Linked DNA regions of Homo sapiens. The protein of the gene in region 2 purifies or fractionates together with the protein of the main gene of each other region. This does not show direct contact. Each region holds a gene or a part of one and is shown on either strand. Other genes may lie near its edges.

The links.
Region 1: the proteins of TAC3 (region 2) and ITIH2 purify together in Homo sapiens (affinity purification with mass spectrometry; one large-scale study listed by BioGRID and IntAct). This does not show direct contact.

Annotation. Positions count from the first base shown.
Region 1 is NC_000010.11:7,709,816-7,713,625, reverse strand, and holds part of ITIH2 (inter-alpha-trypsin inhibitor heavy chain H2 precursor), read right to left. Parts: intron 446-3,810; coding exon 341-445; intron 1-340. UniProt on the Homo sapiens protein: May act as a carrier of hyaluronan in serum or as a binding protein between hyaluronan and other matrix protein, including those on cell surfaces in tissues to regulate the localization, synthesis and degradation of hyaluronan which are essential to cells undergoing biological processes.
Region 2 is NC_000012.12:57,013,594-57,018,174, reverse strand, and holds the start of TAC3 (tachykinin-3 isoform 1 preproprotein), read left to right. Parts: upstream 1-1,645; 5' UTR 1,646-1,788; intron 1,789-2,372; 5' UTR 2,373-2,377; coding exon 2,378-2,491; intron 2,492-4,503; coding exon 4,504-4,581. UniProt on the Homo sapiens protein: Tachykinins are active peptides which excite neurons, evoke behavioral responses, are potent vasodilators and secretagogues, and contract (directly or indirectly) many smooth muscles. Is a critical central regulator of gonadal function.

The DNA.
Region 1 (3,810 bases), on a different chromosome or scaffold from region 2:
TATGTTAAGTTTCGTAACAAGATCACAAGATCACCAATATTTCTGTAGTTTCTCTCTTCACTCTTTAGAAAAAGCAGTGTTTATTTACAGAACATCCATCTACCTGCAAGACAGTGATGTAAGCACAACCAGCGTGGGATCACCCAAAACCCATTGGTTGAAGAGGGACCTTTAGGCGAATAGAAACTGCAGTGCCTAATTCTAACATCTGGCTCTGAGGAGGTTGCCATTGGCTCAGGTGCTGTGCCTTTCCAGAGGCTGCTTTGCTGCTGTGGGAAGGAAGTAGGAGAGGAAACCGTCATTGAGAGGCAAGGGCAAGCCTTGCTCACTCAGGCCTTACCTCACCAAGCCAGCCGTCTTGCCTTTTGCTCTGGCCTGTGCATAAAGAGCTCGGCCCACAGTTTTCTCCTTAATAGAGCTCCTAAATGTCTTGCCGTCCACAGTCCTAGAAAATGACAGAAGGTAACCAGTTGGTCAGAATAGTAATCTTTTTTTTTTTTCCCCTCGAGATGGAGTCTTGCTCTGTCACCCAGGCTGGAGTGCAATGGTGCAATCTCAGTTCAGTGCAACCTCCACCTCCTGGGTTCAAGCAATTCTCCTGCTTCAGCCCCCTGAGTAGCTGGGATTATAGGCGTCTGCCACCAGGCCAGGCTAATTTTTTGTATTTTTAGTAGAGATTGGGTTTCGCCATGTTGGCCAGGATGGTCTCGATCTCCTGACCTCATGATCCACCTGGCTTGGCCTCCCAAAGTGCTGGGATTACAGGTGTGAGCCACCGCGCCTGGCCCAGAATAGTAATCTTAGCAAAACAAACAAGAGCGAGCAAACAACCCAACAAGGCTAATTTAATGAATGAGGGCAATGATCATTTTGTGTCTATAAGAAATAAGAAGGGAGGCATTCAAATAGTTTATGGACAGGACTTCCTTTATTGATTGGATAGTGTGGCTTGAGAGGGGTTTGGTAGGCTCCCATCCTAAAACCTTTCCCTCATGTACTGTTGTTTGTTTATAGATTTTTCCTCATCTTTGAATTTCATCCTTTAGATTAAGGATGGTTCTCTTTGGGTATCCCCTTTGAATGACAAATGTGATTAGGGGAGGTGACTGATAAATTCCGAATTATCTCATTACTGGTTCATCAGGTCATTCTGTGAGCTAAGAATTTGGCATCGCTGTGGGGTATGCAATGGACCGAATGTTTATGTTCCCCGCAAATGTGCATGTTGAACCTTACTTCCTAGGACGATGACATTACGAGGTGGGGCCTTGGAGAGGGCTCTCTCCTCATGAATAGCATTTAGTGCTGTCATAAAAAACAGACTTCGAAGAGCTCTCTCATCTCTTTCCATCTTGACTGAACCAGGAAATGGGCCCTCACCAGACACGAAATCCTTGGGCATCTTGATCTCGGACTTCCCGGCCTTCAGAACTATGAATTTTAAATTTCTGTTGTTTATAATCTACCCATTTTATGGTACTTAGTCATAGCAGCCGGAGCTGATGAAGACAGAATATTATGCTCCTCTGCAAGGGTGGAAAAGAATAAAGAAAAAGGGGGAAGGTGCTGGTGGGTCCCCTGCCAAGGTGGTGTTTATCTGGAAACCATCTCCCTTGGGGACCTCTGTCTTCTATTTGCATCTCATCTCTATACACCTTACCTTTAGCTGGCTAGCACCTAATCCTTACCAAGTAATGGTTGGTCAGAGTGGTAGAATCCAGAATTTTGGAAGTACATGGGAACTTCCAGTACTCAAATGGGCAGTGTCTTTCCCAAGGAGCAATTTGGAAATGTGTGAAGTTTGGGTTGTTGAGATGACTTGGAAGTGCTGCTGGCATTTGTGGGAGGACACCACGAATGTTAGTCATCCTGCAATATGAGGGACAGCTCCACTGAAGAATTTTCCTGCCCCAAATGCCAACAGCACGTGTGTTGAGGCACACTTGTGGGTTTGCCCCTTTAGATGAGAGACATCAGACCCCAGGAGACAGGTGACTCTTGCCAAGGTCACACTGCTGGTCAAGGCCATCATGCTTCTATCGAATCAGAACTAAGTCTCAAAGGCCAAGGGGTCTTTAGGACAAAGGAAATCATCTCCCATAGAATATTCAAGATCTTGATAAAAAGGTAAAAGGGATATTTTGGCTAGTACATAGGTCTACACAGCTCATTTTAAGTTGTGATAATTAAGCAGGTATCTTCTCTGGTCTTATAGATTCAGCTCAGAGCAGAGGGAGATAAAAGTAAATGCATGTTTCACGATTCTGTCCTTTGTACTTCAAATCTTCTATGTAATGAGATAGTAAAGAAAGAACAGAATGAAGGACGGAATAGTATGCAGCCATAAAAAGGAATAAGATCATGTCCTTTGCAGGGACATGGTTGAAGCTGTAAGCCATCTTCCTCAGCAAACTAACACAGGAACAGAAAATCAAACACTGTATGTTCTCACTCATAAGTGGGAGTTGAACAATGAGAACACATGGACACAGGGAGGGGAATATTACACACCGTGTCCTGTCGGGCGGTAGGGGGCAAGGGGAGGGAGAGCATTAGGACAAACAGCTAACGCATGTGGGGCTTAAAACCTAGATGATGGGATGATAGGTGCAGCAAACCACCATGGCACATGTGTACCTATGTAACAAACCTATACATTCTGCACACGTATCCCAGAACTTAAAGTAAAAAAGAAAAAAAAAAAAGAAGGAAAACAGAAATAAGAGATCTTTTGAGTAAATTCTGATTGTGTGGTTTAAAAATAGGAATTTATTAAAATAGTTTTCAATGTCATTTCTAGACATGGGGTCATATAATACCAGTACAGAAAAGCCTTTCCTTCTCCCTTTGCTTTTTAGAAAAGGCAGACAAAAAAAGTGATACATTTTAAAGCCAATTCAAAGGATACCAATTAAAGTGACACAATGCCTTTTTCTGCCTATTTGGTTAGAGTTCACATGACTGCCACTTTCGGCAGCCAAAGTACATGGTGGTTGAACCCTTTACTATTTATCCACAATGATCACTGATTACCTTGGTGTATGAAAGACAAAAGTGGATGAGAAGTAATTCAACCTAATGTCTTCATAAAAAAAAAATAGCCAGACTTTATGCACAGTACTTTGCTGTGTTCTTGGCAACTTAAGAGGGACATTGACCACCTGGAACATACTCTGGGTTGGCCACCTTGATATTTGGACATAGAAATCATTCCAATCACTTAGAGGAACAGAGAATATTTAACTTTGATACATGAAGGCTCCAAGTGGATAACTGGTATTAACTGTTTGGAAAGTATTGGAGTAGTTTAACCTTCTTTTATTACGAAAAATTTCAAACACACAGAAAATAGAGGGAATAATATGAGATGTCCATGAAACCATCACTGAGCTACACCATTATGAATACTCAGCCAATCTTAATTTGTCTGTACTCTCATGCTTTCCACCTTAGTTGTTAAGAAGCCAAGTTCAAGGCCAGGCACGGTGGCTCACGCCTGTAATCCCAACACTTTGGGAGGCCGAGGCGGGCAGATCACGAGGTCAAGAGATCGAGACCATCCTGGCTAACACGGTGAAACTCCGTCTCTACTAAAAATACGAAAATTAGCCAGGCATGGTGGCGGGTGCCTGTAGTCCCAGCTACTCAGGAGGCTGAGGCAGGAGAATGGTGTGAACCCGGGAGGCGGAGCTTGCAGTGAGCCGAGATCACGCCACTGCACTCCAGCCTGGGCGACAGAGCGAGACTCCATCTCAAAAAAAAAAGAAGCCAAGCTCAGATGGCACATCATTTCATCTATGAACACTTCAA
Region 2 (4,581 bases):
AAAAGGGGGAAGAAAACATAGGTTTTAGGGCCTCATATTTAAATGGGTAAAGCAGGCATAGCTGGAAGGCAGAATACAGAACCCCCCTAATCAAGGATCTCATTTTTATATTGAATCCTAGGCCCCCCAAAAGAGGGAAATGTCATGGGACGAGATGTGTGGCATTTTTATCGAGTGCCCCACTGTAAAGATGCTCCCCCAAGGCTGGCAGGCAGCCCAGTGCCGATTAGCCCACTCTGTGCTTAGTCTTTTTTTTTTTTTTTTTTTTGAGGTGGAGTCTTGCTCTGTTGCCCAGGCTGGAGTGCAATGGCGTGATCTCGGCTCAATGCAATCTCTGTCTCGTGGGTTCAAGCGATTCTCCTGCCTCAGCCTCCCAAGTAGCTGAGATTACAGGCACCAGCCACTATGCTCAGCTAATTTTTTGTATTTTTAGTAGAGATGGGGTTTCAACATGTTGGCCAGGCTGGTCTCGAACTTCTGACCCCAAGTGATCCGCCCGCCTCGGCCTCCCAAAGTGCTGGGATTACAGGCGTGAGCCACCATGCCTGGCGTGCTTAGCCTATTTTTAATGGGAGTTTCATCCTCAATGGTGAGTGCTTTCATTGTCTTTAGGTGCCCCAGACCATGTTTTTAAAAATTTAAATGCACGAAGAAATAAGTAGCCCTGTATAGTAGTAATACTTTGTTGTGAATAACTGTCATAAGTCATCTCTAAAACTGTATTTTTTATCTAGTTATTATATATGACTAGCTATATGTCTAGTTTTTTAAATAATACAAAGTAATTTATTTTTGGCATCCTCAAAAACCAAAGAGATTAGGTAATGTAGTGTAGAAGAGAGCAGAGCTTTAGACCTGAGAAGAATCTGCCCATGACTCGTGAAACTCCACAACGAAAGTAGGAGACCCCAAAAAAGGGGTGAGTGTCATCTTTTCTGAATTTTTTTTTTTTTTTAGATGGAGTCTTGCTCTGCCACCAGGCTGGAGTGCAGTGGTGCAATCTCGGCTCAGCCTCCCGAGTAGCTAGGATTACAGGCACGCGCCACCATGACCAGCTAATTTTTGTATTTTTAGTAGAGACAGCGTTTCACCATGTTGGCCAGGATGGTCTCGATCTCTTGACCTCGTGATCCGCCCGCCTCGGCCTCCCAAAGTGCTGGGATTACAAGCGTGAGCCACTGCACTCGGCCGGTCAGATAATTTTTTTGGCCAGTTTTTACATAGAGTAATTTTAGGTTTTATGGCTGGCTTTGGGGCAAAGGGGTTCTGGTTTTTATAGCTGGTCTTGGGGGAGAATGGAACCGAGTGACAAGAGGACAAGAGAGGGTCAGAGAAAAACTTCTGCTTCTGAGGCGGCTATTGAGGCCTTCATTTTGGAGTATTGTCCTCTAAGCCCCAGCAGTGTCAAACTGTACACAAACCATACACAGCAGCCAGCTCGGGTGCTGTTAGGAAATGGTCTCACTGCTGGGTCTGTGGGGTATGTGTGTGTCTGGGTGTGTGGCTACTGTCTGCATCCTCCTCCCCCCTACAGCCTCCCCGCCTCCCCTCCAGCCACCCTGGGATTGGTGACTCTCAGCCCCTCCCCTCAGCTCCCCTAGACCCTCCCAGAGCCTTTATCAGGGAGCTGGGACTGAGTGACTGCAGCCTTCCTAGATCCCCTCCACTCGGTTTCTCTCTTTGCAGGAGCACCGGCAGCACCAGTGTGTGAGGGGAGCAGGCAGCGGTCCTAGCCAGTTCCTTGATCCTGCCAGACCACCCAGCCCCCGGCACAGAGCTGCTCCACAGGTAGGCAAGTGGGAGAATGCTGGATGGACCAGAGCTGGCACCAGGGGACAGGAGCCAGCGTCAGGAGGGAATAAAGCAGATGGCAGCCTCTGATAGGGGAGCAGGGGACTGGGAAGGTGAGCACAAAGCACCTGTAGGGCCGAGAGCTGGTTGGTGTTTGGAGCCTGTGGCTACAGACTCATTCTTTCATACCAGAAAGTTTTTGCCTAAGTCTTGGGATTATCTAGTACTGGAAAATAGCATCCAGGATCCCTCCTCCAGCTGACTGAGGAAACAGACCAGTCCATGTCCTACAAATCTATCATCTTTCTTGGGAGCTAGAGTCCTCCTGGCACCACTATAGCATTGCACATCTCCTGGGGAGATATCTGATGGGGTAGCAGGGAAACTAAGCCCAAGGGCTGTACCCCCTTCTCAGAAATACTTTCCACCCTCTCTCCAGACCAGGGCTTGGACAGTGGAGTTGGGGGCTGGGGAAGCAGGGTCAAGCCAAGCTGCTGGTAATGAATGTCTCTTGTGTCTTCACCCATGCTGTATCTTCCTCTTCTCTCCTTTACCTGAGTCCTGTCCCTTTGCTCTCCCAGGCACCATGAGGATCATGCTGCTATTCACAGCCATCCTGGCCTTCAGCCTAGCTCAGAGCTTTGGGGCTGTCTGTAAGGAGCCACAGGAGGAGGTGGTTCCTGGCGGGGGCCGCAGCAAGGTAAGTCTCCCCTGGCAGAGTACTGGGGACATCACGGGAACTTGGGACTCTGCCTGTCTGGACAGCTGTAGTGAGGAAACTGGGGTGGGGGGGTTGTCCGTCAGAGGGCATTTTGCCTCCCTTTGGATTTCTTTGTTTCTCTGGTCCTTTCATGTTCCCACTGTCTCCAGGTGTGTTTGTGTCTCTGTATCTCTGCATGTCTTTGACACCTTGTACATAAAAGGTGCCCTACAAATATGTTGTTTGGTGGGTTGATTGATGGGAGACTTGGTGATTGGATGGTACTGTGAGGGGTGAGCTAGGGTGGTCTAAGGCTCTCTATAGTCTACCTCAGGTCCCTTTGCAAGGGACAGATCTCTTCTATTTCCTGGATGGTATGAAACAGTCAGAATTTCTTTCCCAAATGGTTATTTGTGTGCTATTTTACCTATCAGTTATGTGTATTGTTTTATTTTCAAAATGCAAATAAATTCCCTTATCTTTTGCTCATCCACCCCCAGTAACCTCAGGTGCTTCTAAGATCCCAACCCCTTCCTTCTTCTCTTTTCTCCCTTGCCCGCCTCTATCCTCTGCTTAGTCAGGATAGGAAAACAACAACAGCAAAAAAACCAGATTGAGCCTCGATTTCCACAGTTCCTTTACGAAAAAGAATAGGAATTGTCAGGGTAGGGGTACAGGGGGAGGATAGGGAGGAAGTCTTTTCAAGGTTTTGAAATGACAGCAATTACATCGGTACAAATGCTTTTAAGATGATTGCGGGTGGGACTTATTACAAATTCAATGTGTGAAGTTTAACTGCCTCTTCAGCTCAAATCTGTTCAGCATCTCATTATAGGAGGTGGGCAGAGTATTCAACAATTTGGGAAAAGTGGCTGCCTGAACACCACATGCTGGGCCAAGGGAGTTATCACCAGGGCAGCCTTGCAGGTGGCAGCAGTTGTGCCATATCCAAAAGGCCAGAACCGTTAAAAAAAAAAACACCCAGGGGAGTGCCAAGTATGGGCTGGACACCGTTTGGAGCCACAAAGTTCCAGCCCAGGATAGTTAGAGTATCTGAGTTCTTCTGAGACAAACTTGTTTCAAGACCTTGGCCAATGAGATGTCCCCTCTGCCCCTCTTGGTCAATGAATGAGAGGGATTGCCATCCTACCCCTTCTCCTTGAGAGTCTGTGAGGATGAGGGAAATTGGGGCAGGAAGAGGGTAGTACATAGGTGTGCCTAGGCAACTGGGTTGGTATGTGTGGGGGTGTGTTCTGTGTAAATGCACTTCTGTGTGTGCACAACAGCCGAAGGATGCCTGGGTTCTGGAAAGAGAGGCGCTGCTGAGACTTGAGATTTGAGATGAAAATCTCCAGCCATGATCATTGTTATTGTCTCTCTGCAGCTGCAATTAACTGGCTGTGTGGTGTGTGCCCACCACCCTGCTGTACGCAAGTTGCTAAAAAAAAAAAAAAAATCACAGGGACAATCAAGAGCCCGTGCTGGGCAACAGCTCTAGAACTTGGGATTCAGTTGTGGAGAGAAGAAGACGTGCCTTCTGAGCATGTTGCCTTCCTGGAATTCTAGACCTAGGGCCAAAAGGGAGAGGGAGAGAAAACTAGAGGCGGAAAGCCATGGAGAATAGAGAAAGAGGTGGTGGAAAACAGGGAGAGAAACATCCATGGACATCGTGCAGAGTGGGGGAATCACAGGTGCAGATGTGTGCCTCCAATCTCACCATGCATGTGAATCACCTGGGGGGCTGCTTAAAATGCAGATTCTGTCTCAGGAGGTCTGGGGTAGGAACAAGAGTCTGCATTTCTAACAGGCTCTGTGTAGTGCTGGTGTTGCTGTTGGTCCACAGGTCACTCCTGGAGCACCTACTTCTCGTCCAGTGTGAACCAGAGGAAACTCTGAAAGAAATAGGGTGTCGGATTCAGGATGGGCTCAGGAAGAGGCTGTTTCTTGTGGGAAAAGGATGAGTGGATCCGGGTGGGAGCCTCCTGCCTCACCCCTCTTTGTTTCTTCCCTAGAGGGATCCAGATCTCTACCAGCTGCTCCAGAGACTCTTCAAAAGCCACTCATCTCTGGAGGGATTGCTCAAAGCCCTG